Homo sapiens: one gene and its partners. The protein of the gene in region 4 purifies or fractionates together with the protein of the main gene of each other region. This does not show direct contact. Each region holds a gene or a part of one and is shown on either strand. Other genes may lie near its edges. The genes, in order: DIRAS2, EPDR1, HIKESHI and SIRPD.

Region 1 (8,164 bases), on a different chromosome or scaffold from region 4:
TTGGCACACTGCAACCTCTGCCTCCTGGGTTCAAGTGATTCTCCTGCCTCAGCCTCCCAAGTAACTGGGATTACAGGCACCTGCCACCATACCTGGCTAATTTTTTTTGTATTTTCAGTAGAGACGGGGTTTCACCATGTTGGCCAGGCTGGTCTTGAACTCCTGACCTCAGGTGATCCACCCACTTCGATCTCCCAATATGCTGGGATTACTGGCATGAGCCACCGCCCCCAGCCTTTGTTTTGTTTTTTGAGATGAGTCAGAGTCTCACTCTGTTGCTAGGCTGGAGTGCAGTGGTGAGATCTTGGCTCACTGCAACCTCTGCCCCCCAGGTTCAAGCAATTCTCCTGCCTCAGCCTCCTGAGTAGCTGGGACTATAAGCATGCGCCACCATGCCCAGCTAATTTTTGTATTTTTAGAGACAAGATTTCATCATGTTGGCTAGGATGGTCTTGATCTCTTGATCTTGTGATCTGCCTGCCTCGGCCTCCCAAGTGATGGGATTACAGGCTTGTTATAGTTTTGATTTGCACTTCCCTGGTGACTATTATGTTGAGTATCTTTTCATGTTATTGACTTATTATTGGCTATTTGTATATCTTCTTATTGACTATTAAATATAGTCAATAAATTCATATATCTTCTTTTGAGAAATGTCTTTTTAAGTCTTTTGCCCATTTCTAATTGAGTTGTTTTGTTGTTGTTGAATTGTAGAAGTTCTTTGTATATACCAGAACTAGTCCCTTATCAGATATATGATTTATAACAATACTCACTTATCCTGTGGGTTACTTCTTTCTTGATTGTGTCCTTTAGTTTTGATGAAGTCACATTTACCTAGTTTTAATCTTGTTGCTCATACTTTTGGTGTCACATCTAAGAAAACACTGTTTACTCCAAGGTTATCAAGGTTTATACCTATGTTTTCTTCTAAGAGTTTTATAGTTTTAGCTCTTATATTTAGGTATTTGATCTATTTTGAGTCAGTTTTGTGTATGGTGTGAGGGAGAGGTGCTCCCCTTATTCTTTTACCAGTTTCAGCGTCATTTGTTGAAAAGACTATTCCTTCTGCCTTTTGAATTGAATTTTATTGACACCCTTGTCAAAAAACAATTGACTGTAAATATGAGGGTTTATTTCTGGACTCTGAATTCTATTCTGTTCATGTATCTGTGTATCCTGTGTTAGTACCACAATTTCTTGATGTATTATATCCTTGTCGTGAGTTTGAAATCAGGAAGTATGGGTCTGCCAGCTTTTTCACTTTTAATTTTTCAACATTGTTTTGACTATTCTGGGTCTCTTGAATTTTTACATAAATTTTGGGATCGGTTTGTCAGTTTCTGCAGAGTCGCTAGTGGGATGCTTTTAAGAATTGCATTGAATCTGTAGGTGATTCCTGGAAATACTGCTATCTTAGCAGTAAAAGTCCTCTGATACATGACATGGGGTGCTTTTCCATTTATTCGTGTATTCAATTTCTTTCAACCATGTTTGTAATTTCCAGATATGTTTTGCATCTTTTGTTAAATTTATTCCTAAGTATCTTACTCTTTTTGATGCTATTATAAATTGAGTTATTTTCTTAAATTTCATTTTCAGATTGTTCATTGCAAGTGTATAGAAATACAGTTGGTTCTTTATATGAATGTTGTATTCTGAAATCTTATTGAATGAGTTTAATAGCTAGTTGCCCTCTTGTGAATTTTTCTCCTTGTCCATCATACTGCTCCTTTATGAACCCCTTATCTGCATGGTCCTTCTTGAATGTAGCCAAAAAACTATGTGCTGAGAGCTGTTCAAGTGCTTGATTGCATTGTGTTACTCCCCACATTAGTCTCATAAACAACTTGGCATTATTATATCCATTTCCTAGCTAAAGCAACTCAAATGCAGAAAGTTTAAGTAACTTGCCAAGTTCTCTCAATAGCATATAACAGATTGGGCATGTGGTATTCTCCTTTCATTCTACATGCTCTCTCCCTGGAGAATTTTTGTTTATTATAGTGCTGTTTGTGTATGAATGGTATCCAGATATTTATCACTAGATGAGTCCTCTCTGCTGAACTTTCACACTAAATCCCAATCACCTACCAGATATCTCCCCCATTTGTCCCATAAACCTGACCCAATCACAGCTCCTTTCTCCTTGTTGTTTACTGTCATTTCTCTAAAGCTGCTTCTCTCTTCTGCCTTTTATCTTGATTGATGGTGAGTGCCACCACTCACTTGCTACCCCAAATTCACTCCTGGATGCCAGTTTACACAAGCTGTCTACCATGGCATGAGCATTAGCTCTATTTCCTCCATTTATTCCTTCCTATGAAGTTCTTTCTTCTGACTAACACGCCTTTCATCACTTCACCATCTGGCAAGTTCCAGCCCTCTGTGAAATGCTTCCTGAGGGCTCCAGGCAGAGCTAGATTCCCCACTAGGTTCTTATCCTGCCTTTGTTGATAACTAGATCACAGCATCTGCGAAGTGGGGCGTAATGTATACTTTCCTATGCTTGTCCCCCCTCTAATGCTGTGAGTGCTGTTGGGTAAGCACTGAGTTTGCACAGTATCTAGAAGACATTTTATAAATGCTTGTGAAATAAATGAATGGTTCTGACATGGAAGAAAATAGTTTACAATTTTTTTTTTTTTTTTTTTTTTGTGATGGAGTCTTGCTCTGTCACCCAGGCTGGAGTGCGGTGGCATGATCTCAGCTCACTGCCACCTCCACCTCCCAGGTTCAAGTGATTCTCTACAGTCTGGGTTTTTGTTAGTGAGTTGAAGATCACTATGGAGTTATTGGCCCAGGCCTATCTCATAAATGCACATTGAACTTTATACCCCTTCAACTTTCTGACTCCTGTTCATCTTTCAGATTCATGCTTCCATGCCACCTCCTTAGTGAAATTCTTCCTGATATCTCAAATTTCATGAAATTCCTTCAGACCTCTCTTTTGCAGCACTTGCTATGATATAATTTATTAAATATTTATGAAGTTATCTTTTGGATTGATGTCTGCTTTACTTGATTCTGAGTTTCATGAGAATAGAGATCCTTCCTTAAGTCTGTCCTCTGCACAGTTGTTTTCTGGCCGCTTGTCCACAGCCTGGTTTAGTGGAAGCTCAGTGGATATTTCTCTGGGTAAATGAATAATTGTAGCCATGAATACTTTATTTTATGTTTAGCATTTACTTCCTATGTGTTCGTTGCCAGTTTAATAATGGAGACACCTTAACATAGCTGACCACATATTCAGCAAACTCATAAAGAGTGTATGTGCTGTGAACCAAGAGATCTTTGAGATACATTGGGATGCAGAACTTGTTAAGATATGTTCTCTTCCAGCTAGATGCTTATGCTCTAGTCTGGAGCTACATAACCATAATACAAGGCAAAACGAGTGAGGAAACTCCCTTCTAAGCAAAAAGAGAGCTTCATTCTGAGGATGTAGAAAGAAGCTTAAGATTAGATTCCATTGTCCATTTTCTATGGTTTAAATGTGTTCCCTAAAAGTGCATATGTTAGAAATGTAATCCTCAAATGTGTATGTTCATGGTATTTGGAAGTGGGGCTTTTAGGAATAGATGAGGTCATGAGGAGGCTGGGCAATGCCTGTCATGGCATCAGTGGCTTTATAAGACAAGGAGAGAGACCCTAGCTGACATGCTTGCTCTGTCTTATCATGCCATGCCCTCCAGTATGTTATGAGGCAACAAAAGGCTCTCACCAGATCCAGCTTCTTCATATTGGACTTACCATCCTCCAGAACTGTAAGAAGTAGATTGCTTTTAAAATTATTTCATCTGAGGTATTCTGTTATAGTGACAGAAAACAAACTAAGACACGATTGAGTTTTTTTAAAAAAATTGTGGAAAAATTTATCACAATGCTTCACCCTTGAATTAATCATAATTATCTCATAAGCATTTAATAAACTTCACCAAACTCCTAAGCAGACTCTTCTGCCATCTTTTGGTGTTAATGAACTTCCTAACAGTCTTTTATATTTTCTGTTAGCATTGATGTTTCCTTAGCTTCTTGGAGGGTTTGGGATTCCAAAGTGCATGCAAGAACAGCTGAGTATTGAATCGAGCAGATTTGTAGGCAGACGCATGAGGCAAAATGAGAAGGTGGAATACCTCAGTCCAGGGCTTTGACCTGATGTTCTGTCTGTCAGGAGAACATATTCACTGCACAAATGCATTTCCTTCCATTGGTAGTTATGTTTAATATTTTTACTGGACTCTAAAACTTATTTGCTTCAGTAAAGCTTTTTATTGTTTTTCCAAAGTTGCCCTAAAACTAGAAAGGTGAAAAGTCAGCACAATGCCTGCTTGCTGAGAAGAATGAATTCCATGCTTCACATTACCATGTTACTTATCAACTTCAGTTTTAAAAATGTATCCAAATTGTGTAATTCTCTATTTTGTTTGGTGTTATATGTCCTTCCTTACCGAAGAAGGTACAGAATGAAAAAATTTTGATAGATTGTAAATTAAGAAGGCACATCTACACATCCCTGAATAAAAATAAATATTAAACTAGGGGTGAAGTTTGTGATGAAGAGTTGCTGCATTCTCCTCATTTTTAATGACCCTTAAAAAGTAGTTTATGCTACTATCCTGGTAATACCTGATTCCTTATGTTTCTTAAAAATAAAGCTTATATAATCATCTTAATTTTGATGAATGAAATGACTATCCACACTTATTAGTTAACTCTTCATACTTAATGGAGACAATCTATACTATGGCCTGAGTAACGCCCAAGTCACTGGGACCAGCTCTGTCTACAGACAGCTTATGGGATGGGCATTGACATCCACAATGCTTTGGTTGTATCCTAGCCTTCCCTCTTATTGCTGTGTAACATCAGAGACATTCCATTCCCGATCTCTTCCTTGTTTCCAGTTTCATCATTGTACAACAGAGCTAATGGCACCAACTCCTGCAGAGTGGTGAGGATTTCATGAGTTAATATAAACACTGAATAAATATTAGAACATCCTTTTCCCTCATTCATCTCCCTCTCCCAGTATTTCTCACACACACACACACACACACACACACACACACACACACACACACACATTATGATGACCAGTATATTGGGTACTCAGTACTTCAGGTAAAACAGCAAAGATATGCTGCTGTTGATGATGGTGATGTGTGTGTGCATATGTGTGTTTGTGTTTTTACGGGGGTAGTTAATTTATCTTCTCATTGCCTTTCCTTGGTGCTGTCTCTCGGGCTCACTTTGCATCTTTTACCTGGGCTTAGGGCCTATGTGGGAGCAAAGATGCTCATTGTCATGGTCCAATAAAGAGAAACAGATGGGCTCCAGTGAGCCCCTGAGTAGATCGTCTGTCCTTTTGAAAACGGCGGATTGACCAAATTTATTGGATTTAGAATTGTCGCTATTTTAAATGTTATCACCTCCCATTTTTAAGCTATCAAAAGAGGGTAGAGCTATCCTTATTAATGTTTTTATATTTTAATTATTAATTCTTTCAAACATCTGGTTCCTTTGCTAGGTGCGTCCTGGCTGAGAGTTGGAGCTCTCCAGCAACATGCCTGAGCAGAGTAACGATTACCGGGTGGCCGTGTTTGGGGCTGGCGGTGTTGGCAAGAGCTCCCTGGTGTTGAGGTTTGTGAAAGGCACATTCCGGGAGAGCTACATCCCGACGGTGGAAGACACCTACCGGCAAGTGATCAGCTGTGACAAGAGCATATGCACATTGCAGATCACCGACACGACGGGGAGCCACCAGTTCCCGGCCATGCAGCGGCTGTCCATCTCCAAAGGGCACGCCTTCATCCTGGTGTACTCCATTACCAGCCGACAGTCCTTGGAGGAGCTCAAGCCCATCTACGAACAAATCTGCGAGATCAAAGGGGACGTGGAGAGCATCCCCATCATGCTGGTGGGGAACAAGTGTGATGAGAGCCCCAGCCGCGAGGTGCAGAGCAGCGAGGCGGAGGCCTTGGCCCGCACATGGAAGTGTGCCTTCATGGAGACCTCAGCCAAGCTCAACCATAACGTGAAGGAGCTTTTCCAGGAGCTGCTCAACCTGGAGAAGCGCAGGACCGTGAGTCTCCAGATCGACGGGAAAAAGAGCAAGCAGCAGAAAAGGAAAGAGAAGCTCAAAGGCAAGTGCGTGATCATGTGAAGGCCCTTCCTGCGGGAGGAGCAGCTGTGTGTCCCCGGCACCTCACTCCCCCAAAATGACACCCACCGTCGTCAGGGTAGCATGTATAATGCCCACGTGTTAAACATTGCATTTAATCGAGATGCGTCCTATTGTCCTTAAGAGGGCGTTTCACACCACCAACAGTAAGCCACCCACTCTGGAGTCACAGAATCTGCCAGGCGGTTCAAGTGAAAACCAACACACTCAGCATCCCTGGGAACTGAGAGGTGCCAGCAATTGCTGAAGGTGGCGATGAACACCCGAAGGTGGGAGGGAGGACTGGTACCCACAAAGCAACATGTACCGAGAGGACTAAATGTCATCTACGTGCATGTGAGAGCGTGTTAACCTAGAGTTACCTGCACCAACCCCAGACAGAAGCCAATCACATCTTTGGGGGAGGGGAGGGGCAGGAAGAGGTGAGAAGATCAGATGGTCCAAAGTGGACCACACTTGGTCCATTTTACACTTTTTTAAAGGGGATTAAAAAACACAGCCTCTCCCCCAAAGGGTGTCCGTTCTTAATTCCCACCTGGCCTGTTAGGAGCCTTGCTACCCTGAGGGGATGTGTTCACCTTACCTAGACCTAGTTAGGAAGTATCATTTTAAGCTATTAGAGTATTTATCTTCATGTGCAGGGATAAGTGCACTAACAGTGTGCTGCTCTGTCGGAAGTTCTTCAGTTTTTAAGTGAGGATATCGTGACAGTATTAAAACATCGCAATAATGTTCCTGTGTGTTATACATCGAGGGTTTTAGAAATGTGATTTTCTTCTTTTGACCTGTGAGGAGTATAACTTCTTTCAGCCCTCAGATTTTAAATACAAGCAAATAAACTCACTATTTTTAGACGTTTTTTTCCTCCAAGGTGGTTTTCTTCTCTTAAATAACTCGATCTGTACCCAGCTGGGTAGCAGCCAGCAAAGGCCATCAGACAACCAGAAGCACATCCATTTTTGTAGTGTCACAAACATGTATATGCCACACTTTGCACCTTAATGAAATACTTTGAAACAGAAGTTATTCACTGTGTTTTTGATGATCTATCTGTATTGGAAATATGTTCCTGGAAAATGCATTTAAATAATAGTAAATTCTCTTGCATGTTCCATTATACGTGTCTTCTAAGAGCTGTTCAATACAGTATTCACTCTAGAAACAATTATCTTTTTCTCTTAATGATTTTGTGTGCATCTTTAATCTTTCAAGCCAAATTACAGCTATTTCAGGTTTCCTGTGTTAGCTTGGGGATAGGATGGTGGCTGGAGACAGGCAGGCTTCTCTGCCCTGGGAAGAGCCCACTCAGCTTAATTGCTCTGCCATCGTAGAGCCTGGTTGGACTTGGCTTCCTGAAAACTCCCACTGATAGTGCCTGTTAGATCTCCTGTTTGTTTCAGTTGGCAGAACATTTACTGGCCCCAACTGTGGCATCATCCTCTCAGCAGTCTTCCTGTCACCCGCCTGGCAGGCAGAAGGAGCTGCAGTCCCACGTGGGCCTGCCTGGGGGGGTGGGGGCTGCATGGCTGTTGGGTGGCAGTGTCAGCACAGGGAGGGCTTAAGTTGGGGATGTTTGACCAGGCCACCTCCTGCAACTGCTGTTTCTCCTGTCCCTCCTATGCAGGGCTTGCAGCAGCAGCAGTGTGGCCATCTCCATCCCCCAAAGCACACTTGCTCTCTCAATATGTCCTAGTTTTCTTCAGCCTTTTCTGGTTCAGTTCCCTTGTCCTGATCTCATCCTCTCTGGTCTCCCAATAACTCACCCTTGGGATGTGTTTAGAGCGTGGGAGGTGCCTTTGAGAACTGCTTGACTCCATGATCTCCTAGAACAAAACCGCCCTGACTTTACAGGGGGAACACTCATGCTGAGCTGAGAAAGCAGAGAAGTGGCGTGGGAGCCAGCTGGGGGTGAAGAGCATTTGGGCCAGTCCCGTGGCCCCCTTCAGATTCCTCAAGCAGGATTGTTCTGTTCTAAAAAGC
Region 2 (8,164 bases), on a different chromosome or scaffold from region 4:
GGTCATACTGAGGAGTTTTAAACAGTGGAATTTGTGATTAGATTATATAAAGATCCCTGGATGTGTCCTTAAGAATGCATTCCCAAGATGTGGACACAAAATGGAGCCATGTGGAGCAAAAGTGGAAGTGAGAACACAATCTTGGAGATTGTCGTAGTGGTCCAGGTGAGAGATGGGTAGTAGCGATGGAAATGGTGAACAGGGGGCAAGTGAATGCATTAGGGAAGTATTGAAGAGGTTCAACTGAGGAAAATGTACATGATTGGACGGGTTGTGGCAGGCGTGGTGAGGGAGAGGAAAACGTTAAAGAGGCCCCCATTTTTGGCTTGTGAAGCTAATGGTACTGATGGCATAGGGTAGATGGTGATGCTGTTCCTTGCAACAGGGCTTGACTTTGTGCACTTCTAATTAAGGGTGCATTGGTATCCTATGTAATTTTATGTGAAGACTTGTACAGTAGTGGCGCATTGATGAATAGTCATATTGAAGATGGACTGGGATGGCCGAGAGCACACTGCTGAAGCAGAGGAGTGTGTCAAAGAGAAGGATAAGGGTTCATCTCTCCAAAGGTAGTATTTTTTTTTTTACAATTAAAAAAATTAGACTTTAGAGTCAGACAAATCTGGATCTGAATCCAGACTCTGAATATGGGTCTTTGGGTAAGTTAATAAAGCTTTCTGAGTCTCAGTATCCTCATTTACAAAATGTGAATACTTATAATGCCTAATTTATTGGATTATTATGGGAATTAAATGAGCTCAAGTGTATAAAACATACAGTACAATGTCTGATAGTACGCACAAGATGCTCTGTTCATGGCCAAGGTTGGTCCCATCGCTACCACTATCATCATTATCCTGGTAAAGTTACCATAGCCCAGAGACTTGCTGCCAGCCCTTTGGGCTCAGAAACTTGATACAGCAGCACACACAGACCCTTCCTTTGGGAACAACCTTCGAGTAAGGAAACTCAAATGCTAAACCTGTCTACTTCAATGAGTCTTATTGCTGGCATGAGGACCAGCATTCTCAAATCCACCAGACTAGGTCATTCTCTCCCTGTAGTCAGAACTATGTGGGGAGCCAAATTATCATCAGGCAGTTGTGAGCAAAGAGTTGGAGCAAATTCATTGAGCAAACATCTAATGATTGCCTGCCCTAGGTTAGGCTGTATGCTCAATGTGGAGTTTTCCATCATGAATAAGACAGGCCAGCCTGGGGTAAGGTTTAATGGTAATCAGGCAAAGGCAAAGTGATGCATTGATTTTCACAATAGAGATGACTTGGTGGTGGTTCTGTGCTACCCCAACTGTGCTGTTCCTGACCCCTTCCACTCAGAATGGACCCTTGGTGAGTACTGCTCAAGTCTGTCTGAGCAACCCTTCTTCCATGACTCCATGACTGACTAATATAGCCTTTAGATGTGTGTTTTATACCTTTAGTGGAGTCACAGCCAACTCTTGCTGGCTTAGAAGCATTTTTGTCCCTTTGCGGTGATTTCTCATTCCTCTGCCCTAATCCAATAGGTGCTGGTTTCACAGTTAAACTTCTAAAAGACATTGTTTTCCCTTTCTTTCCGAGTTCTTGGCAAGGTTCTTTCTGACAGTCACATCGCTGGCCCTAAGTCAGATGTGGAAAAGAATGTTTAATGCATAAACACATTTTTAAGCTCTTTAAGTGTAGATTTGTTGGAACAAACTCAGAAACTTTTTCAGGTATTAACAGTCTGGCCAAGCAACCAGATGTTATTTGAAGAAAATATGGATGAGTTGTCTCTTCATATTTATGAGTAAGTTGAGAAGTAAGTTTTAGAATTGGATCAACTTCTTAAGATTTTCATTTTGCATCCAGATAGTTATGGAAAATCCCATTGATAGTTACTGTGGAATGACTAGGATTTTCCAGGCTCTGTTTTCCCTGAGATGATGGAAAAGATTAAACAACTTTACAAGCTTCAGATAAGACAAGCCTGAGCAGCAAATGGGAAATATTAGTAATTGATACCATTTTATTTTCTAATTCCAACTGTCTTTTCTGACTCCTTGATTAAATTCACAAGTATTTATTTGAAAGACTGAAGGAAATCAAGAAGATGATTTTCATATTTCAGGCAGCATGTTGAACTTTATAGGGGAAGCAGCGTTGATACACAATGAACCCTCTCAGGCCACCAGTAACTATAGGCTCCCCCTTACAAAATGGTGGCTTGGGTGTTGGAATCAATGAAGCTCTTAATGCAGAGTGAGCAGAGAGGCAGTAAAACAATATGCACAGTCTGGTATCTTGGAATATTATTTCATCACCAGTCGTACATGTTCTATTAAGGATTTGTATTTGTAAAACATGAAAAATATGTCACAAATGGGGCAGCAGGTGGATTCTTATTCAAATTCTGATTAATTCATGTCTGCTTCTCTTGATTCTCCCAGAGCATATTATTTCTTGGAGAAGAGAATAGCATTAACCTCTTTTTTAAACAGAGAATCAGCCTCCTGTAGTGGAGAGAGCAGGGGCATTCATGTTAGACCATGATGGAGTGACAACCATGGCTTCTAATCCTGCCTTCACCCCAATAAGGTCCTCAACATTGCAGAACCTCTGTGTTTTTCATCTTTTAATTTAATTTGAATGATGCCTACAATGTTGATACTAAATCACTTTTAGGCTTTCATTTGTTAAATGCTAGGTACAGATAGTATTAAATGATATCCTGAAGGCACCAATTGTACTTTTATTATATCAGGCTGATTCACTGTTTCTAATGCAATGAACTTGACACAGATTTTAAATTTTTTCTCAATCTGTCCCATTGTGTAGACAAATTAATTCAAAGTTCTTTTTCTTCCTTCTCTTTTTCATCTAAGCCTGTGCTTATGAGTAGAAAAAGAGAAGAGGCTACCTTGAAATGCCTCGGGCCCAAACTCAGAAGGCTCTGCACTCAACTGAGCCTCCCTTCCTACTAAGAATGGAATAGTGTTGCTTATAGGGGTGTTGGTCCAAGTATCAGCTGTGGATGATTAATTCCCAGGGCTGCTATCACCTAAGGTAACTTCAGTAATCTTATGTGTTTGGAAAGGAGGATGAGGATTATTTTTCAAATACATAATTTTGTTTTATTTTGAAACAATCTCACACCTACAGAAAAGTTGCAATTATAATACAAAGAGCTTCCCCCTCGCCTGAACTGTTTGATAGTAAGTTGCCAAACTGATATACCCACGATCCCCAAATGCTTCAGTGTATTTCCTCCCAGCAAGGACATTCTCCTGCATAACCACAATACAACCATAAAAGTCAGGAGATTAACACCAGTTCATTTTGACCATCTGAAATTCAGGTGTCATTCATGTTTTGCCAGTTGTTCTTTGTATGTTCTTCATAGCAAAAAAAAAAAAAAAAAAAAGATTTAAATGCAAGCATTACACTTAAGTGTGGTGTCTCTGTGGTCTCTTTCTGTCTGGAATAGTTCCTAAGTCTTCCTTGCACTTTAGTGCTTTTAAAGATTGCAGGCCAGTTATTTTGTAGAATGTTCCTTGATTTGGGTTTGTCTGATGTTTCCTCATAATTAGATTCAAGTTACTTACCTTTGGCAGGAATATCAGGGATAATACTCTGTTCCAATTGCATCCTGATGTTCACTTTGATCACCTGATTGACTGTTGTCTGCCAGCCTTCTTCACTGTGAAATGATACATTTTTTCTTTTTAATTAGTAAGATTTGGTAGGGAAATATTTTAAAACCATGTACATATCCCATTCTTCATTAATCTTCTGAATTATACTTTATTTGTATCAGTGTGGACTCAAGCCTTCTAATTTTGTTCTATTTGCTCTCGTTGTTTACTTTGCTGTTCATAATGTCCTAGATTTGGCCAGTGGAAGCCTCTTCAAATTGGTTTCTATGTTCTTTTGATGTGTTTGGGCACTTCCTTGCTTTCCGGCACAGCAAGATATTTCAAGATCATCTATACTTTTCCTGCCCCAGTCCTAGGATAAACCATTTTTCAAGAAGCCCTGGTTACTTTTCCTGGAGAATAATATGTGGAAGTTAGAACCTGTGCTCTGGTCATGCTCAGTGCTATCAGGTGGCACTGCTACCAGGTCCTCTCAATGGACAAAGCAAGGGGTGTTAAGTTTGAATACACACATCCCTCCCCACACACACTCATACATATATACACATTTACATCTATATTTATTTCTGAACCTCCAGTTCTAATCCATACAGGTGTTTAAACTGATGCCTTCATTCTAATCCAACACTACATGGTTCATTCTAGTTTTTTTTTTCCTTTCATTTTTGCTACTCCCTTCTCAGCCAGTGAGAAAACTGGCTTACTATTCAATTGCAGTAGGTAACCAGTCATGTATCATTACGCTGTCTCCTTCACACATGGGCTCTGCGCTCCAGGCCAGCCCATGTAGAAGCCTATCTTCCTTGGTCCTACCTAGTGGCTTTAGTCTAAATTGTTCAAGAGAAAGGAGTAGATGAAATTATGTTCTTAACATATGTTTGTATTGCTTTTGGATTCTCAGTATGTCATCATTACAAATCCTCAGAGGGTGTTTCTGTGTGACTGGGGGAGGCAGACTAATATAAAGTGCTCAATAAATCTATTTGATCATGAATCTTGTCTTGCATGGATTGGATTTTCATTTTAAGAAATCACGACTTTGTGAATATTAAGAGCATGACTTCTCCTTTGACCTTTACTCCATCATTTTGGTCTCAGATGGCTGGAGATAGCATATTCTTTTGTGAGCTGAGGAAGTCTTGACTGCTTGTGGCCTCCTGATCCTCAAAGAATAAACCATACTGATTTGCAATACTTGAGTTTCGCAATATTTGAGTTTTTCTTCAAGAAACAGATTTTCTTGGAAGCACACAAAGTTTGATTTAAGGGACTTAATTCAGTGTGTCTATAGACCCTGGATTTCAGACAATTAATGCTGAGATGGGGAGGGAGAAGCAGGCACTGGGGAAAAAAGATCCAAAGAAGATAAGCCCAGGAGAGTAAGGAGGCTGATGGAATGTAAGACAAATTTACGAATGGAAGCCAGAGGTGGTCACTATACTGCTTTGAAAACATCTTTACTTTCTCCAATAACCTTGAGCTGTTTCTTCCTGATTCTGACCTTGAGGATGGTGGTCAGGGGCAAAGTGCCCAAAGATCTGAAAATATTCCACCAATTAGTGGTTTGTTTTTCCTGGAATAAATATGATAGTCTTAGATTTCACCAATTCCAGTAAAAAATTTCTATTTTCCCCCTTAACATTTTCTTTTATTTTACCCATCTTTAAATAAAAAAAAAAAACTTCTCTTGATCTTACCAGCTGAAATCTCATTCTCCTCTTCTATTTAAAGCAAATCTCATGCTAACTACAATTTTTGTACTCCCATGCTCTCTTGAACACCCTCCAATCACTTTTGTCACCATTCTATTGAAAATACTCTGGTCAAAAGCAAGAAGCTCTACATTACTAATCAACCAATCTTTGATCAGTCCTCATCTTATTGTAGATTAATTCCCCAATCTTGATGCACTGTCTTCACTTGGCTTTCAACATGCTAGTCTTCTGGTTTTCCTTCTCCCACCTTATTTCCTCTCCTCAAGCCTTTTTGCTCTTTCTGCTCTTCTCTGGACTGCTAATAGTGGACTCTCCCAGGGCTCAGGCTCTCATCTCTTTATGTTCCTACCTATACCCTAATTTTGATATATACTGAATCTGACCATACCTCTACTGTTATTCTGGCCCAAACTTTTATTATGTCTCGGCTGGATGTTTATGATAGCCTCCTAACAGTTGTCCCCACTTCGGACCTTGCTCCCTTTAGTCTGTTCTCCACATAGAAACCCCAGGGGTTCTCTTGAAAATACGTCATGCCACTTCTTGGCTCAGGATCTGCTCCCCAGCCTTTTCCCTACCTTATCTCTGTCACCAGCTCACTCATTGTGGACCTGGCCTCAGCACGCTGACCCCATTGGCACTTGAATCTGTCATTCCCTCTGCCTAGAAAGACTTTTTCCTAAGAAGCTGCATGACTTACTCCCAAATTGAACTGTTTCTCTGCTCAACATTCTCAGTGCCCCCTCACTGCTTTATATTAATATATCCAAGGCACTTATGACTATCTGGCAGAGTGTTTAACGTTAAAGTTTGTTCCTTCATCTCCCCCACCTTCCCTCATGCACAATAAGGCTCCGTAAGGCCAGGGGTTTTGTATGGTTGTTGCTGTGTCTCTAACTCCTCAGAACACTTTACATTCTTTTCAACATACTATGTGGGACCTAAACGAATACTTGTCCCATATGAAAAGAGCTGTGTTCTGATGTCGGAGAAGGCGATTCCCAAGCTCCATTTTCTAACTGCTAAGAGCAGGGCCTGACTAATTTTTATTTTTTTTTGAATCAGTGAATGAGGGAAATGAATAACTGATAATATACATTCATTGTAGAAGGATACCTAAATAATAGATATGTATTTTCTTTCCTTTTTTCCTTATAATTAAATTTCTTAGACAATAAAATGATAGATTTATGTAATGGTTTCATGGTTTTTCATTTATATGTTACGTTATACCTCTTTTCTGTTAAGAATGATTTTTGACATCGAATTACACTGCAGTGTTTTGAAAAGTTTTCCAGTAGGGTTGAAGTGGAGGGCACACCACCACCTCCAGAGAGTGGATGCCCCAAACTCCTTTCGCCCATGAGCCACTCCCCCACTGCCCTCTCATCAAACACTGTCTTCAGTGTCTCTCTTGTGCCTCAATTTCAATTTTGGGGAATTTCACCCAATGTGGGCATTTGAGATTTATTTCTAAAGCACCCACAGTTTCTCAGAAGCAGTGCCTTTTTGAGTCGGGAGGCCATCTGAAGAGGAATCAGATCCTTAGCAGGGTGCCTAAGTTACCCTCAGTCCCCCCAAAGAAAGGAGAAACTCTTGGGATGATGGCTCCCCTAAAGAAGGCAACTTCTCCTGGAGGAAAAGGATATACATGCCTTGGATGACTCCTGCCCGCTCACAGAAGGCTGCTTTTGTTGTGGCTTAAAGTTAGATCTTCTGGTAGAGTTCTAGAATGTGGGCCCTGCCGATGAGTGACAGCCAAAAGCTCACCTTGGAAGAGGCACCAGAGTCACAGCCCCAGCTCTCTCAGGGAAGACGCTGCTCCAGAGCATCTCAGAAGCCACCAGGGAAGACAGTGGCAGATGGGAAGCCGGTGGTGCAGGGCCAAGGGCACAGCTCTGCCTGACGCAGCATTGTCAGCAATAGGTAACATATAACTTATGAGGAGTATCTGAGTACCAGCAGGCACTCTTGGGAGTGAAGGATGGGGGAAGAGAATCTGCCCCAGACTTCATATCCATTGGAAATGCCACATCAGGTGCTGTATCTTGGCATGGATTGTGTTTCCTGTAGGTGTGGGAGTTCTTCTTCTCACAGTCAAGCCCTCCACCTGTCCCTTGTCACACACCCTGTCCTTTTGAATAGAAATTCTCATCCTAGCCCAGCTTCAGGCACGGCCTGGCTTACCCTTGGACCCCAGAGATCTCACCCTTCTGAGGTCTCAACTCTCCTTAAGGAGTTAGGAAATGAAGCTTGGGAATCCACTTCTCGGACATCAGAACACAGTTCCTTTTGCACAGGACAAGTATTTATTTAGGTTCCACTTAGTATATTGAAAAGAATTTGAAGTGTTTTGGTGGTTTGTAGTCCTCTTTCATCATGCTGAATCAAGCCTCAAAAAGGTCAATTTCTGCAGTTGTTAAAACACAGAGGAATTTTTATAGTGTGTGTGTTTGCATAAGTTTATAAGGAGCTTTGTCACAAGGTCTTCTGTTTTAGAGAAACAAGCCATTTTACTCCTTTCATAGTTCACTGCAATTTATTTTATACTAATTTTCGTATTTACCTTTATTTCAATTCATGTTTTAGTCAGCTAGAGAAATTATTCAATTTTTTTTTTCAGAGAAGACACTAAGGTTGCATACTTTCAGAGATTTTCAATGTCTAAGCACATCTACTTATTGCCATTTAAATAATGATTTTTTTTGGTGTATACAATTTGGGTAAAAATAGTCTTTTTGCTTAAATATGTTTATGGCATTTACAGCTCTCAAAGAGAAGTCTGAGGCCAGGTGCGGTGGCTCACGCTTGTAAT
Region 3 (8,164 bases), on a different chromosome or scaffold from region 4:
CTCCCACGTCATACAAAATAGGTTGTGGGACCGATTTGGCCTGTGGGCCTTGGTTTGTCATTGCATTAACCTACAATTTTCATGTTGCATTGCCCAAAAGATTATGCCACCTTTTAAGTAATATAAAAGGAGACTGGAGACACCATCTTTATGGTCTCTTTTTAGCTTTTATTGAACAGAATGTAAATTCATACTTTTAAATATTTTGTTCATAATGGCAAAGAGAAGAAAATTGACAGAGGAAGAAGTTTCACAATTATTAGACAAATCAGAAAATGAATACTGAAAGGTAAATTCTACACTGATGACGATGGTAAAGTGGATCATATAAGCAAAATTACCTACTATGAATCTTCAAATAAGATCTCATTATCTGAGTTTTCTCAACTAAAAATTTGATGATTGAACAATGTATTTTTAAGGATCAAGAGAAAATATGAGGCCGGGTGCGGTGGCTCATGTCTGTAATCCCAGCACTTTGGGAGGCCGAGATGGGTGGATCACTTGAGGTCAAGAGTTCCAGATTGGCCTGGCCAACATGGTGAAACCCCGTCTGCACTAAAAATTTGAAAATTAGCCGGTGTGGTTGCACAGGCCTGTAATCCCAGCTACTCGGGAGGCTGAGGCATGAGAATTGCTTGAACCCAGGAGGCGGAGGTTGCAGTGAGCCAAGATCGTCCTACCGCACTCCAGCCTGGGCAACAGAGTGAGACTCTGTCTCAACAACAACAACAACAAACAAACAAAAAAAAAAAAGAAAAGAAATATGGTATTCTACTCAGTCATTTAAGAAGAAGGAATTTCTCACATAATATTTTGTCATGGACAAGTAGTAAAGGATGTGTTCTGCTATTCTTTTATCTCTTATATTTGTGTTCCAAAATAGACTGGATATGGTTTTATAAATAGACAAATGCTGAAAGCAGGGGTGTATAGAGAAGTGATTGGAAGGAAATAGGTATAGGAATGAAAAAAAAAATAATTGGCTTGATCATTCTAAATAATGGTTATAAATCTAAAAATGAAAATATTTTGCAAAATGTAGATCAGAGGATAGCCATCCTTCAACAAATTATGAGCCGTTAAAGGTTTCAAAACTTCAAGCTTTCAGGTATTATATTATGGCAATGTAGATGCCAAAAAAAGAACAAGATACAACCATAAGCTATAACTTTATTAATAGATATCTGACTTATGAAATTTATAAAATGGATGTGTTCCATAAGACGCATGTGTTCCATGTTTATCCATGATGGTTGATGGGCAGTTGTATTCACAGGACATAGCCCATTTCAGCTATATCTTAAAAACAAGGAAAATGTGGAATGACTATCTGGATTTGCTGTACTTAAATACTTAGAAAAAATCTAATAAAGTTGTTTTCCACTATTTCCTGATTCTTCTCAACATTCTTTGTAAAATATGTGTGTGTGTGTGTGTGTGTGTGTGTGTGTGTGTGTAAAGTTTCCATTAGATGCAAATAACAAATGATGGTGACTGCTTTTCCTTGTATACTGAGAATAAAGAACTAGCTCCCTGTAGGAATTTTTCCTCTGAGTTGTGTTTTGTGTTAGGCTCTTGATTTACATGGAGGAGGGATGCTTTGAGAAAGAGTCTTAAAAAAAATTAGCTGCTGCATTTACTGTTAACAGTGTTTTAAAGAACTTGATCTAATTTACATTTGTTTTTTATATTAAGACTAGGTCATATATTTTGCTTGCTCTTCTTTGTATTATGATTTATAATTTATTATTTTTGCATCTATTTGATGATATGCTTTGATAATGATATGTTTTCTGGATTTTAGCATAATTCTAGATTTAAAAGAAATCAAACGGTAGAGTAAGGAGCTCCAGAAAATCCAGTCTTCCATAAAAGCAACAACAACACTGTCAGAAGATCACAGCTCACTGTAGTCTCGATCTCCTAGGCCTAAGCGATCCTCCCACCTCCACCTCCCAAGTAGCTAGGACCACAAGCATGCACCACCTCGCCTGGCTAACTTTTGTAGAGATGGGGTCTCCCCATGTTGCCCAGGCTGGTCTCAAACTTCTGGGCTCAAGCAGTCCTCCTGCCTCAGCCTCTGAAAGTGTTGGGATTACAGGATATGAGCAACTGTGTCTGACCCAGAATCAACTTTTTTGGAACTCTGGTAACTAACCAAAAGCTTGTAGCAATCAGGGGAACATTTAATCAAGAAAATACACTGAATCTCAGTAAGAACAGTGAGCTTTGTGGCATTTGGCTACCCTTGTCCCATCTGCTTCTCAGCTCAGTGATAGCCTTGAAAATAACAGACTCCATTCCTGGTACTGATATAGGGAGCAGGATAGACCTAATTCAGAAAGAATTGTAATTAACTTGTTTTCATCTGTCTGGTGGCTTGCTAGAAGACTGTTTAAAAAAAAAGAGGTCTGCCTTTATGTCACCTAACTTGGAACTCTTCATGGAAAAGTATCTACCTTGGGGGTGTTTGTTAAAAGTATTTACAGACATATGTTTTAGCTACTGTTGCCCGAGGCAAAGGAAAACAGTTGGAGTAAACCAAAACTAACCAGAAAGGTTGGGAATGAGATGCTTTGGGGAATGAGGGCTTTGAAATTCTCTGACATATTCTTGGTAATCTAGAAGGGTACGTGCATTCCCAGAGCTTTGTGCATGCTCAGGAAAGACCCGCGAAGACCCAGAGCTCTCTCTTCTGGCTCACTTTAAGTCTCCGCACAAGCAGGAAGTGAAGACTAAGGTGGAGTTATAAACTGCCTGGCTGAATACTAAAGGCATGTCCCAACACGCAGAGCCCATCTGCAAAGACTGGCAGAATTTTTTGGTTGCAGAGGTTTAAGGAAATTTCTTTCTAATCACTAGCAGACTACTAACTAATGGAACAGAGACTTCACTGGCCACACATAACAAAGAAACAGACTTTACAAAATTAGTTCAGATAAGTCATTAAATGAGGAAACAACTACAATAAACAGCAACAACAAACCCCTAGAAGGTGGAAACATCTGATTTATAGCGTCGTCACATTGTAATATTCAAAATGTCCAGTTTTCTACAAAAAATTATGAAACATACAAAGAAACAAAGTAAGGCTCTTATACAGAGGAAACGAACAGAAACTTCCCCCAGGGAAGCACAGGCAAAGACTTTAAGTAAGCTGTCTTTATTATGCTCAAATTGCTAAAGGAAACCAGAAGAATGATACATCATCAAATAGAGAATATCAATATAGAAATTATAGAAAGGAACTAAACAGAGTTTATAGCTGAAAAGTACAGTAACTGAATGGTTCACTAAAGGGCTTAGATAGCAGAATTGAGTAGACAGAAGAAAGAATCAGTGAAGTCGAAGATAAATTAATTGGAATATCCAGTTTGAAGAGCAGACCCTTAGAGACCTGTGAGACACCCTCAAGTGCACCAACATGCACAGCAGACACAGTGTAATGAGAGTAACATATGGAAAGGCGGGAGGGCTGGAAAGAATATTTGCTCTGGTCTGAATGTTTGTGTCTTTTTATATGATGAGGTCTTTTAAATTTATATGCTGAAATCCTAACCCCCAAGGTATTGGGAGGTAGGGACTTGGATGGTGACTGGGTCATGGGAGTAGAGCCCTCATGAATGGGATTACCACTCTTAGAGTAATAAGAAGATCACTTGCCCTACTACCACGTGAGAACACAGTGAGAAGGCACTGTCTGAACCAGAAAATGGTCCTTCACCAGATACCAAATCTGCCGGTTCCTTGATCTTGGACTTCCCAACCTCCAGAACTGTGAGAAATAAATTTCCGATGTTTATAAGCTACCCAGTTTATGGTGTTTTGTTATAGCAGCCTGAACAGACTAAAACAATATTTAAATAAATAATGCTCAGAAACTTCTCAAATTTGAGGAAAAACATTAACCACATTTAAGAAGCTCAAGAAACTCCAAGTAGGATAAACTACACCAAGACACACGATAATCAAACTGTCAAAAGGTAAAGAGAGAATGTTGAAAGCATCAAGAGAAGTAACTCATCACATGCAAGGATCCTTGCTAAGATTAATAGCTGATTTCTCATCAGAGACCCCATAGTCTTCTAGACGGTAGTGGATTGGCATATTCAGAGTTCTGAAAGGAAAAAAAAAAAAGCCATCAACCAGGAATTATATACTCAGCAAAACTGTCTTTAGAGATGAAGGAGAAATACTTTCCTAGATAAACAAAAACTAAGTCATTGCTGGCAGACCTGCTCCATAAGGAATGCTAAAGGGAGTCTTCTCTATTAATTATTTATTTTTCCCACACTCTGTTACTGTCTGTGTCTAGTTGCAGTAGTTTCAATACATTTCAGAAATGTGACAGCTATTTTTCTGGTGGGAAACTTTTAGTTCTTTTATTCTTTGTTAATATGCTAAAAACGAAGTAGGCTTTTGCATTTATCTGAAAAGAGGGACAAACTTGGACATAAAACTTTTTCATGTATATAAATTAGAGGTTCTTTATAAATTTACAAAGGAAATTGTGTGACTACAAGTTTAATTTGAAATGTGTGTCATATGTTAATTTCTTGCAGGAGAAGGAAGCCAACATCCTTTTGGAGCCATGAATATTGTCCGAACTCCATCTGTTGCTCAGATTGGAATTTCAGTGGAATTATTAGACAGTATGGCTCAGCAGACTCCTGTAGGTAATGCTGCTGTATCCTCAGTTGACTCATTCACTCAGGTAATGCAACATACATTTCATTCTTTACCTCCCCCTCCACTGCTTTATTAAGGTATAATATACAAGTTAAAATCGTAACTTAGGGTATACAATGTGATGTTTTTGATACATGTTTACATTTTGTTTTGTTTTATTTTGTTTTTGAGAGATGGAGTCTTGCTCTGTTGCCCAGGCTGGAGTGCAGTGGCGCAATCTCGGCTGACTGCAATTTCCGCCTCCCGGGTTCAAGCGATTCTCCTGCCTCAGTCTCCTGAGTAGCTGGGACTACAGGCACATGTCACCACACCCGGCTAAGTTTTGTATTTTTTTTTTAGTAGAGACAGGGTATTGCCATGTTGGCCAGGCTGGTCTCGAACTCCAGACCTCAGGTGATCTTCCTGCCTCGGCCTCCCAAAGTGCTGGGATTACAGGTGTGAGCCACCACACCCAGCCTATATTTTGACATAAAATCAAGCTACTTAACATATCAGTCACCTCACACAGTCATCATTTTTTTGTAGAGAACAGTTAAGATCTGATCTCTTAGCAAATTACAAGTATACATTATTAGTAACTGTATTCTCCATGCTGTACAATAGATTTTCAGAATTTATTCATTCCATTGAACTGAAACTTTGTGCCCTTTGACCAACATGTCCTCATTTTCCCTTCCCCTCCACTCTTCAACCCCTGGCAACCATCATTCTACTGTCTGCTTCTGTAAGTTCAACTTTTAGATTCCACATATAAGTGAGATCAATCATGCTATTTGTCTTTCTGTTCCTGACTTCTTAGCCTATTATCAAGAGGAAAAATTGATGATGTAGGAGAGCAAGGAGAACTGCTAAAGCAGTGTCCTTGAGTAGAAAATAGCAGCATATATGGAGGTGTTCACTTTAGACAGGATAATGGATATATGGGTACAGATTCAGGAGGCTGGTAGATGTGGTGATGAGAACTTGTGCAGGCTGTCTCCTGATTTCTTCTTGCTTAGTGAAATAGAAAGGACGATCATCAGCTAAGATCGAGGTAGTAGAAATTGAAATAAAAAAAGACTACTAAATAAGTCTTCTAGCAGAGGAGGAGTGAATGGATTAGGGAAACCATATGTGTTTGCCTGGCAGTACCAGAGGCGCACTTTTGAAGGTTGTGGTCATGAATGTAAAGGTAGATTTGTCACATCTTTGAAAATGGACTGAATTGAGAATGACAGACTCTGGGTCTCAAAAATGTTTTTTTTCCCATAATTTTACAAATAAGCTGCTGTGCTGAAAACAAACTATAAAATAATCGTAGTATCCTGTGTAGACAATATTTTAAAAGTGTCTGGAAAATACACATTAAAATGTTATCCCTGGAGAAGGGTAAGAAGACTTTTTTACTGTACATGTTTATAAATTATTTGAGTTTTTAAAATAAAACTATAGTTTTAATTAAATGTATTACGAAATATTTTAAATACAGAGAAAATAGAGTAACTTATATTTTCCACAAATAGTTATTATGTAACTACTCTGTACCAGGCATGTCTTTTTTTCTTTTTCTTTTCTCTTTGAGACGGAGTCTCACTCTGTCGCCCAGGCTGGAGTGCAGTGGCGCGATCTCGGCTCACTGCAAGCTCCGCCTCCTGGGTTCACGCCATTCTCCTGCCTCAGCCTCCCAAGTAGCTGGGACTACACGTGCCCGCCACCAGGCCCAGCTAATTTTTTTTGTATTTTTTCGTAGAGATGGGGTTTCGCCGTGTTAGCCACGATGGTCTCGATCTCCTGACCTCGTTATCCGCCTGCCTTGGCCTCCCAAAGTGCTGGGATTTCAGGCGTGAGCCACCGCGCCCAGCCTGTACCAGGCATTTCTAAGCACTCATAGATACAAATAGGTCCACAAAATAGAATAACACCTGTCTTTACAGAGCTCTCTTTATGGTGGGGTATACATTAAGACTTCCATTGTCTTCCCCCTGGATTTAACTGTTATATTTTGTCTTATTTGCCACTAATTTTTAAAAAAGAAATTAAGGCATTATAGATATAGCCCACTGCTGCCTGCTTCTCTTCCTGCCTTTTACCTTCTAACTTTTTATATCTTTCCTATTCATATTTTAGTACTTAAAAAAATTCCTGTGTATCCACAAAATATGTATAGTACTATCTGTATCTGTTTAAACATGTTTCTAATTTAATTACTTAGTTACTCCAAATTTTTATGAGTATTACATGTATTTGGTTTAAATAGTCAAATAGTTTTTTTTTATTATACTTTAAGTTCTAGGGTACATGTGCAAAACGTGCAGGTTTGTTACATATGTATATATGTGCCATGTTGGTGTGCTGCACCTATTAACTCGTCATTTACATTAGGTATTTCTCCTAATGCTATCCTTCCCCCTGCCCCCCACCCCAAGACAGACCCGCCCGCCGTGTGTGATGTTCCCTGCCCTGTATCCAGGTGTTCTCATTGTTCAATTCCCACCTATGAGTGAGGACATGCGGTGTTTGGTTTTCTGTCCTTGTGATAGTTTGCTCAGAATGATGGTTTCCAGCTTCATCCATGTCCCTGCAAAGGACTTGAACTCACCCTTTTTTATAGCTGCATAGTATTCCATGGTGTATATGTGCCACATTTTCTTAATCCAGTCTATCATTGGTGGACATTTGGGTTGGTTCCAAGTTTTTGCTATTGTGAATAGTGCCGCAGTAAACATATGTGTGCATGTGTCTTTATAGCAGCATGATTTGTAATCCTTTGGGTATATACCCAGTAATGGGATCACTGGGTCAAATGGTATTTCTTAGTTCTAGATCCTTGAGGAATTGCCACACTGTCTTCCACAATGGTTGAACTAGTTTATACGCCAACCAACAGTGTAAAAGCGTTCCTATTTCTCCACATCCTCTCCAGCATCTGTTGTTTCCTGACTTTTTAATGATCGCCATTCTAACTGTTGTGAAATGGTATCTCACTGTGGTTTTGATTTGCATTTCTCTGATGACCAGTGATGATGAGCATTTTTTCATGTATCTGTTGGCTGCATAAATGTCTTCTTTTGAGAAGTGTCTGTTCATATCCTTTGCCCTCTTTTTGATGGGGTTGTTTTTTTCTTGCAAATTTGTTTAAGTTCTTTGTAGATTCTGGATATTAGTCAAATAGTTTTTTTGAGATGGAGTCTCACTCTGTTGCCCAGGCTGGAGTGCAATGGCGTGATCTCGGCTCCTGCAACCTCTGCCTCTCAGGTTCAAGCAATTCTCCTGTCTCAGCCTCCCAAGTAGCTGGGATTACAGGCGCGTGCCACCAGGCCTGGCTAATTTTTGTATTTTTAGTAAAGATGGGGTTTCACCATGTTGGTCAGGCTGGTCTTGAACTCCTGACCTCGTGATCCACCCACTTTGGCCTCCCAAAGTGTTGGGATTACAGGCGTGAGCCATCACGCCCAGCCTCAAATAGTGTAATATGTGAAACAGCTGTCCTCTG
Region 4 (8,164 bases):
ATGAACTCAATGTCAGTGTGGCTTGTGTGCTACCCAAGAATACACAAGAGCAATTAAGTACTAAGGAATAAGATTTTGTTTGGTAGAATTGATCATTGACAAACCAACCATTGTAATATCTAAGATAATCCTACACTCCAAAAACCAGTTGTGACCTTTTATGGAAAATAGCAACTTCATTGAGAATGCATGCCTCAGTGTTTACTCTGGGAGAGGTGAATGAGTGGCCTTTCACACCACAGAACACCCGGTATGGGAGGGAGCTGCCTCCATATGCAGGTCACTCCATATGCAGTATGTTGGTTATCAACATACTGTCCTTAGCTTGGGGCAGTATCCCTGATTTTGAGACAATTAGAAAAATCTGACCCAAATTCTATTTTGCATTTTCTCATTTAATAAAAATATACTCATATATTTATTTAAAATATGTTTATTTAGTGCCTAATATATTGCAGGCCATCCTCATATCCCGATGCAGAAGGAAAGTGTCATTCTCCTATTTGTACACTGGTACCTCCCCTTCACCTCACATGGCACCCAGCATTGTAATTTTTATATGACTGGTGCCATCACATGATGCTGAAATAAAGCTATCATACTGAGATCCCACCTTGACCTATAACCAGACCCTCAGAGCATCTTGAGCCAAGACAGAGAACATAAGAGATGATTCCATGTTTATTTCCAGGAACTCCAGAAGAAGAGTTCCAGGTGAAATAGCCTCAGACTTTAGTGTCAGTCAATCCCGGAGATGTCCTAACCCTGGCCTGCAATATGTCTGCTCTGTCCCCAGAAGGGCCTGTCTTGTGGTTCAAGAGCATTGGGCCAGGACAACAATTAATCTTTAGTTGCAATGGAAGCCACTTCCCCAGAGTAACTCCAGTGGAAAACACAATGGTTGATCAAACTGACTATTCCATTCGCATCAGTGACGTGTTGCCAGAGGATGCTGGCACCTACTACTGTGTGAAGTTAAGGGTAGGACACCCTGACATGGAGTTTTTCTCTGGTCCAGGCACCACCGTGTATGTGAATGGTGAGCACAGCCTGATGCACTTTATTCCCTGGGTTTATGAAGATGAATCTTTAAAACCCTTCACCATGTACCAAATCATCACTACATACTGAACACCATGCTCCTTTATCCACGAACTACCCTGTAGACTAGGTTTCTTCTAATAGCCTTTCTAGTAAGCCATTCTGGACAACCTGTGCCAAATACTGAATCAAGCTATGTTGACAAGCCACATCCTTCTCTGATGCCAACCCCACCAGAACCCAATGACATAGGAGACATTTACAAATAAAAAGATACTGGATATGCAAGGTGCAACTACATGTGTGCACTGCATGGCCTAAATGGTAAGAAAACTGGGTCCTAGAAGGCTGACTGACTTCTAAGGTTTTACGAAGAAACCTGGGCCCAGGTATATGCATTGTGTATATTATGACTTATTCCATGACCCTGAACTTCCAGTCACAGATGCTAGTAGCCACATCTTAGCTTCTGATGGAATCTCAACATAGGTGAAGTTTTCCCCAAAATGCCCAGTATCTCCTGGGCCAAAACAAAGGGCTCTTCAGGCAGGTAGAATCTCTACATGCCTCCATGATCCCAGTCACCTTCCCATTACCAACTGGAATGTGATGGGGACCTGATAGCAAGTACCTGAGTGGTCACCACAGTCCAGTCTGAGATCACACTCCCATTCCCCATACAAGTCAATGAGTGGATGTGATCTCCTACCATGGCCTGGCACTGTTGTTAGGGAATTCTTAGACCAGAATGAGGGGTCTTGTGTATCAATCTCTCCAAAGTCTTTTTTGCAAAAAGCCTTCCCATAGGGGTTGAGTCATTCCCTGACACTTGAACTTTCCCAGGTCTGTCCTGAGACTTCCATGCCCAGCCCCACTGTTCTTTAATTCCCAGTATTTTTATTCCCAGGATAACCAGTATTTCCTTCTCCTCACCACCCTCTGAATTAACGTCATGAAATACAGTGGTATTAGGTGTCCCTCAGTTCTACCAGGAGAACTGACCTTCCCAGTAATGTTTCCCTTGAATCCAGACACATTCCATAATGCCAAAATGGCAATGGAAAATCCACAGGTTTCCCTTAAGTTACATAATGTCAATGCAGGCTGCCTTCCTACCATTACCTCCTGGCCCTGCCAGCCAGGAGTTCCCTTTCTCTCTAACCTGCTCCTTAGGCAGTCTGTGGTTTTGACAACCAAGCTTAATAGGAGAGATTATTACCAGGACCTGACACATTGTAGGGTAGTGATGATGACTGTGTAGGAGGGTAAAGGGTGGCTGGTGAGAACCTCCAAAATTGTAGAGGGCCCTTGAGGTTCTAATCTCTTTTTGTTGAGGAGAGGAAACCCTCTCCCTTCTCTCTCTTGAAGAGATAAGTAGTGGAACCATATGCTGTTGCCAAGACCACCTCATTCTTTAATTGTTTTAACTTCTTCTGTGCATCTCTCAGCATGAATTTCTGTACAAATTCAGAGGCTAATCACCCTTCAGAGGAGAGAGGAAGGCCAACCCCAAACTCAGTGGAGATGTAGGGTTGAAGGACAGGACTTGAACCCAGTTCCAAATGTACCGAGTGACTCTAGGCAATTAGATGGATAGGGAAACTAGTCTTTCTCCAAGAACATTACCCATTGATAATTGCCCCTTCTCTCTCCCTGTCCTCCTCTTACCACGGTTGAGGGCTGAGGAATGGAACTGAGGAGGAATACATCTGGTCTTCTGGACTAACTCCCTTCCTTCAGCACTCTAGGGAGAAGCTGCCTCCATGTGCAAAGGCCTCTCTTTACTCAATGCATGGGCATTTGCGCATGTCATTAAAAGAATTAATGAATGAGGCCCAACCGTGACCCGTACCCATGCTTAAGCCAGAACAGGGGAAATGAGAAATGATTTTCAGCTTTTTTCCAGGAGTCACACATGTGTTCCATGTGCAACAAACGGAGATGTCACAGACTGTATCAACTGGGGAGTCAATCATCTTGAGTTGCAGCGTACCCAATACCTTACCAAATGGACCTGTCTTGTGGTTCAAGGGAACAGGGCCAAACCGGAAATTAATCTACAATTTCAAACAAGGTAACTTTCCCAGAGTAAAAGAGATTGGAGACACCACCAAGCCTGGCAACACAGACTTTTCCACCCGCATCCGTGAAATCTCTCTTGCTGATGCTGGCACCTATTACTGCGTGAAGTTCATAAAAGGAAGAGCTATCAAGGAGTACCAATCAGGTCGGGGCACTCAGGTGTTTGTTACTGGTGAGTATGTCTCCTATACCCCATACCCCCTGGTGTATAATATCATCTCAGCAGTTATGTCTTCTATTCATTCAATAATTGCTATGTGCCAAATATTATTGAAGGTACAACATACATTTGATCTTTTTAATTCTCTCAGCAAGCTGTGAGTTAGGTATTTTACAGGAAGAAAAAAAGACTTGAAAAGGTTGAGTGATGAGTGATAAGAGCTATTTTGGTTGATTTCTCAATATTTAATCCACCCCCATGACTAACCTAAGCCAACTAGGATAATTCCATGTTCCCTGCTAGAGGTTTACTCAAATATGGGCTGAACTTGGCCAGTTTGGGTCTATCAGAGAAAAAGACAGGCTTGCAGAAAAATCTGGTAATCTAAAGTAATTCTTCCCTTTGTTGGCTGGAAACAAGCAACTGTGTTGCTCCAGGTGCTTTAAGCAGGCATCTTATGACCATGAGGGGAATAAGGTTGAGAAAAAGTCTAGATGAATGCAGATATGTAACAAGTGTGGATTGACAATCTGCACAACCATACTGCTCCTTGTTCCAATCTCACCTCTGGACCTCTAATAATGTGAAAGAAAACATCTCCTTGCTAAGCCAATTTGCTTAAATCAACAATGTCCTAAGGGCTACAAGAATGATAAAAGTCGCACATCCCACAGTGTGTTGTAGTGTGTTGAACTGCAAGTACAAATCTATGTTTCCCTGCATCCAAAGCCTTTTTCTTAGTGTTTTGCTACTTGTGGTGCCCTGTGAAATTTGGGCAATATCCAGCCTGAGAAATTATTAAATTGGTAATACAATAATGCTAACATTTATTGGGCATCTACTATATTCCAAACATTTCATCTATATTATCTACACAGCAACATTTGAATTGCTGGATGCTTGTACTCACTGTACAGATGAGGAACCTAACTCAGGGAGATTTCAGGAGTGTACATAGTAGGGAATAAAGAGGTGGGGTTGGTCTGGGCCCAGTCCAGTATGTTCTATATTAGTGAAGAACATTTACTTACAAGAAAGAAGATCAAATGCATTAATTTCAACCAAAAATATGAGTTGATTGATTCTGTACCTGCAGAGGATTCTGGGTTCCTCACAGTATTCAAGGCAGAACTTTTGGAACCAGGGACTAAAGGATTGGATTTAGGGCTTAATGTTACCAAGACTGTGGCTCTCTGAAATTCTCTCATCTCTTCATGGCTTTAATCTTTCCTGCTGCATATAAACCTTCAGTATATGATAGCGAAAATAAATGCAGAAAATGTTGATATTCATTCCCCCATCTTACAACCAAGGTGGAAAGACAGCTTCTTCCTACCAACCTTCACAAATGAGTTCTAGGGAACTATCCACATTAGCCTTTTGTATGCCATGTTGTCAACATTTTATTCGTTGTTGCTAGGGAGAGGAGGTCCATGGGAGATAACCAATCAACCCAATGGAACAAATGCTAAGCAGGTTGAAAACAAAATATGTTCATCCACCACATGGTCCACACCCTACCTTATCAGATGAGGAAGTTGAGCCTCTGAAAGGTTAATGGGCTTGTCTTCCAGGTTATGGGTACTGGAACCCAGGTAGACTCTTCTCGGAACCCTTTGGGTTTATGGCTTTGCCTCCTTCTTAGTAAGAAGTCTCTAGTTAGAGTGGAGATATAGGAGTGCATGACAGCTGTTTAGAGGGAGAATACTGTGAATGAGTTCAATATCTTTATTAACATTCAAATGTTCTGAGTCAGAAATGTACCAAATTTATGCCATTTCTTAATAAATAAAAATGTATACATATGTTTTTAAAATACTTAGCTATGTATTCGTTTCTTGTAGTTGGTGTAACTAATGGATACAAATTTGATGGCTTAAAACAACAGAAATAGACCACTATGGGTGGCATAACAGCACAAGGAGTTCCAAGGGCCCACTCCATGGAAACTGGTGAAAATTATTTTTAAAAAATATTTAGAGGCTCTGGAAATAGTATTAAGGGCATATCATAAATGAAGAAATAATTTTTAAACTACTAAAACTGGGGAAGAAAAGTAAAAGTCTGATATTTGAACCAAAACCCACCTTTTCCCTGTCAAAGGCTATACCCCATGGCAAAGAAGAGGAATCAACTGCACCAAAATAATCCATCCAGTCACTCAACAACTGTACAAGCAGATGACAATAACAAGCCTCGGTGGTTGTGAGGAAGACCAATATCCAGAGTTTCTACAATGTATTATCTAAGATGTCCAGTTTCAAAAAAAGTGAGACATGCAATAGAACAGAAAACTATGACAAGTATACCAAAAACAAACCAAAAAAAAAAAGGTATCAGAAACTGCTTGTTATGGCCATCAGATGTCAAACTTAACAGGCAAAGCATTTGGTGTAACCATTACAAATATGTTCAAAGAAACATGATTAAACAAACCATGATTAAATAAGTACAAGAAAGTAACATGATAATGTTGCATCAAATAGAAGATATCAATAAACAGAAATTATTAAAAAGAACCAAATGGAAATTTTATTATTCAAAAGTACAACAATTGAAAGAAAAATTACCCTAGAGGGGATTAACAGTAGATTTGAAGAAGCAGATTTAGCAAATTTGAAAATAGATTAATATAAATTATGGAATCTGAAGAACAGAGAAAAATTAAATGAAAATAACATTTAAAAAATGAACAGAGCCTCAGAGAAATGTAAGCCATCATTAAGCACACCGCATACATGTAATAGGGATAGCAGAAGGAGAGGAGAAAGAGAAAACAGCAGAAAAAAATATTCAAAGAAAGAATAGCTGAAAACTTCTCAAGTCTATTTAGTCAGCTGGACCGGAGACTGAAAAAGGAAACTCAAATTACTAGAATCAGAAATGAAGGAAGGAACATTACTAGCAACTTTATAGAAATAAAAAGGAATATTAAAGAATACTATGAAAAAATGTGTGCCTATAAACTAGGTTTATATGATGAAAAAGACAAACTCCTAGAAGACATAAAAATTACCAAAACTGGCCCAAAAATAATGGAGCATTTCAAGATACCTATAACAACTAAACAGATTAAATTAGTAATAAAAAATTACCCTGATATCGACACCAGACAAAGACATCACAAGAAAAAAACACAGATCAAATATATCTTACGTATATGGACACAAAAATCCCTTAAGAAAATACTAGCAAACTGAAACCAGCAACATATAGAAAGCATTATTCATGTTGACCAAGTGGGATTTATCCCATGAATACAAGGTTGGTTTAATATCTGAATGTCAATTAATTTAATACAACACAATATCAATAAAATAAAAAAGAAAACCACATAATCCTCTCAAGATGATAAAAAAAAAGGAATTTGGTAAAATCTAAAATTCTTTTATTTAAAAAGGTACTCAAAAAACTAGGAATAGTAGGGAACTTTATCAACCTGATAAAGAGCATGGATGCAAAACCCATAGCTAACATCATATTTAGCAAAACCGAAAGCCACAGCCAATGTCACAATTAATGAGGATGGTTAGATGCTGTCCCCAGTAGATCAAGAATAACACAAGGATATCTCCTATCACCATTTCTACTCAACGTTGTACTAAAATTTTTAGTCAGGACAATTAAGTAATAAAAACAATCCAAATTGGAAAGAATGAAGTAAAACTATCTCTATTGACAAATGGCATGTTCTTGTACATAGAAAATCCTAAGGAACCCACTAAAAAACTATTCAAACTACTGAGCAAGTTCAGCAAGCTTGAGAGTACAGTTCAATATACAAAAATCTATTACATTTCCACACACTTGGAATGAACACTAAAAATAAAAATAAATTTAACAAAAGAAGTGCAAATTTATACTCTGAAAACTACAAAAAAATGTTAAATGAAAGAAGATCTAAACAAATTGAAAATTTTCCCATTTTCATGGACCAGAAGATTTAACATTCTTAAGATGGCACTATTCCCCCAAACTGGTCTACAGATCCAACACAATCCTTATCAGAATCCCAACCTACTTTTTTGTAGAAATTGACAAGCTGATCTTAACATTCATGTGGAAATATGAAGGATCCAGAATAGCCAAAACAATCCTGAAAAATAAAGTAGGAGAACACACGTTTTTCTTTCAAAACTTACTACAGGCTGGACGCAATGGCTCACGCCTGTAATCCCAGCACTTTGGGAGGCTGAGATGGGAGGATCGCTTGAGGACAGGAGTTTGAGGCCAGCCTGGTGAACACAGTGAAATCTCATCTCTAAAAATAAATAAATAAAATAAAAATAAAAGTTCACTACAAGTCCACATCAATCAAGATAATGTGGTACTGGAACAGGATAGACCTATAGACCAATGGAAAAGAGAGAGTCCAGAAACAAGCCCATGTATCTGTGGTCAACTGATTTTCAACAAGTGTGATAATGAGGAAAGAAGCATCTTTTCAACAAATAATGCTGAAACAACTGGATAGCCACACACAGAAAACAATGAAGTTGAACCCTACTTCACACCATATACAAAAATTAACTCAAAATGGTTTGAAAGCCTAAAAATACCTATAAAGCTTTTATAATAAAACATAGGGATAAATCTTAATGACATCAGATTTTGCATTGGCTTCTTAAGCATAGTATCAAAAGCATGAGAAACAAAAGAAAAAATAGATATATTGGACTTCATAAAAATTAAAACCTTTTATGCTTCAAAGGACATTATCAAGAAAGTAAAAAGATAACCCACAGAATGGGAAAAATATTTGCAAATTACATATCTGATAAGGGCCTTGAGTTTAGAATATATAAAGAATTTCTCCAAAGCAGATATTCAAATTGCCAATAAGCACATCAAAAGGAGCTCAGCATAATTTATCCTCAGGGA

The links.
Region 1: the proteins of SIRPD (region 4) and DIRAS2 purify together in Homo sapiens (affinity purification with mass spectrometry; 2 studies listed by BioGRID and IntAct, with this or other methods). This does not show direct contact.
Region 2: the proteins of SIRPD (region 4) and EPDR1 purify together in Homo sapiens (affinity purification with mass spectrometry; 2 studies listed by BioGRID and IntAct, with this or other methods). This does not show direct contact.
Region 3: the proteins of SIRPD (region 4) and HIKESHI purify together in Homo sapiens (affinity purification with mass spectrometry; 2 studies listed by BioGRID and IntAct, with this or other methods). This does not show direct contact.

Annotation. Positions count from the first base shown.
Region 1 is NC_000009.12:90,611,230-90,619,393, reverse strand, and holds part of DIRAS2 (GTP-binding protein Di-Ras2), read left to right. Parts: intron 1-5,530; 5' UTR 5,531-5,566; coding exon 5,567-6,166; 3' UTR 6,167-8,164.
Region 2 is NC_000007.14:37,923,097-37,931,260, forward strand, and holds part of EPDR1 (mammalian ependymin-related protein 1 isoform 1 precursor), read left to right. Parts: intron 1-8,164. UniProt on the Homo sapiens protein: Binds anionic lipids and gangliosides at acidic pH.
Region 3 is NC_000011.10:86,332,814-86,340,977, forward strand, and holds part of HIKESHI (protein Hikeshi), read left to right. Parts: intron 1-3,150; exon of another isoform or gene 3,151-4,120; intron 4,121-4,565; coding exon 4,566-4,717; intron 4,718-8,164. UniProt on the Homo sapiens protein: Acts as a specific nuclear import carrier for HSP70 proteins following heat-shock stress: acts by mediating the nucleoporin-dependent translocation of ATP-bound HSP70 proteins into the nucleus.
Region 4 is NC_000020.11:1,546,822-1,554,985, reverse strand, and holds part of SIRPD (signal-regulatory protein delta isoform 1 precursor), read left to right. Parts: intron 1-2,936; exon of another isoform or gene 2,937-2,947; coding exon 2,948-3,295; intron 3,296-4,792; exon of another isoform or gene 4,793-4,938; intron 4,939-5,127; coding exon of another isoform or gene 5,128-5,177; exon of another isoform or gene 5,178-5,235; intron 5,236-5,386; coding exon of another isoform or gene 5,387-5,532; exon of another isoform or gene 5,533-8,164.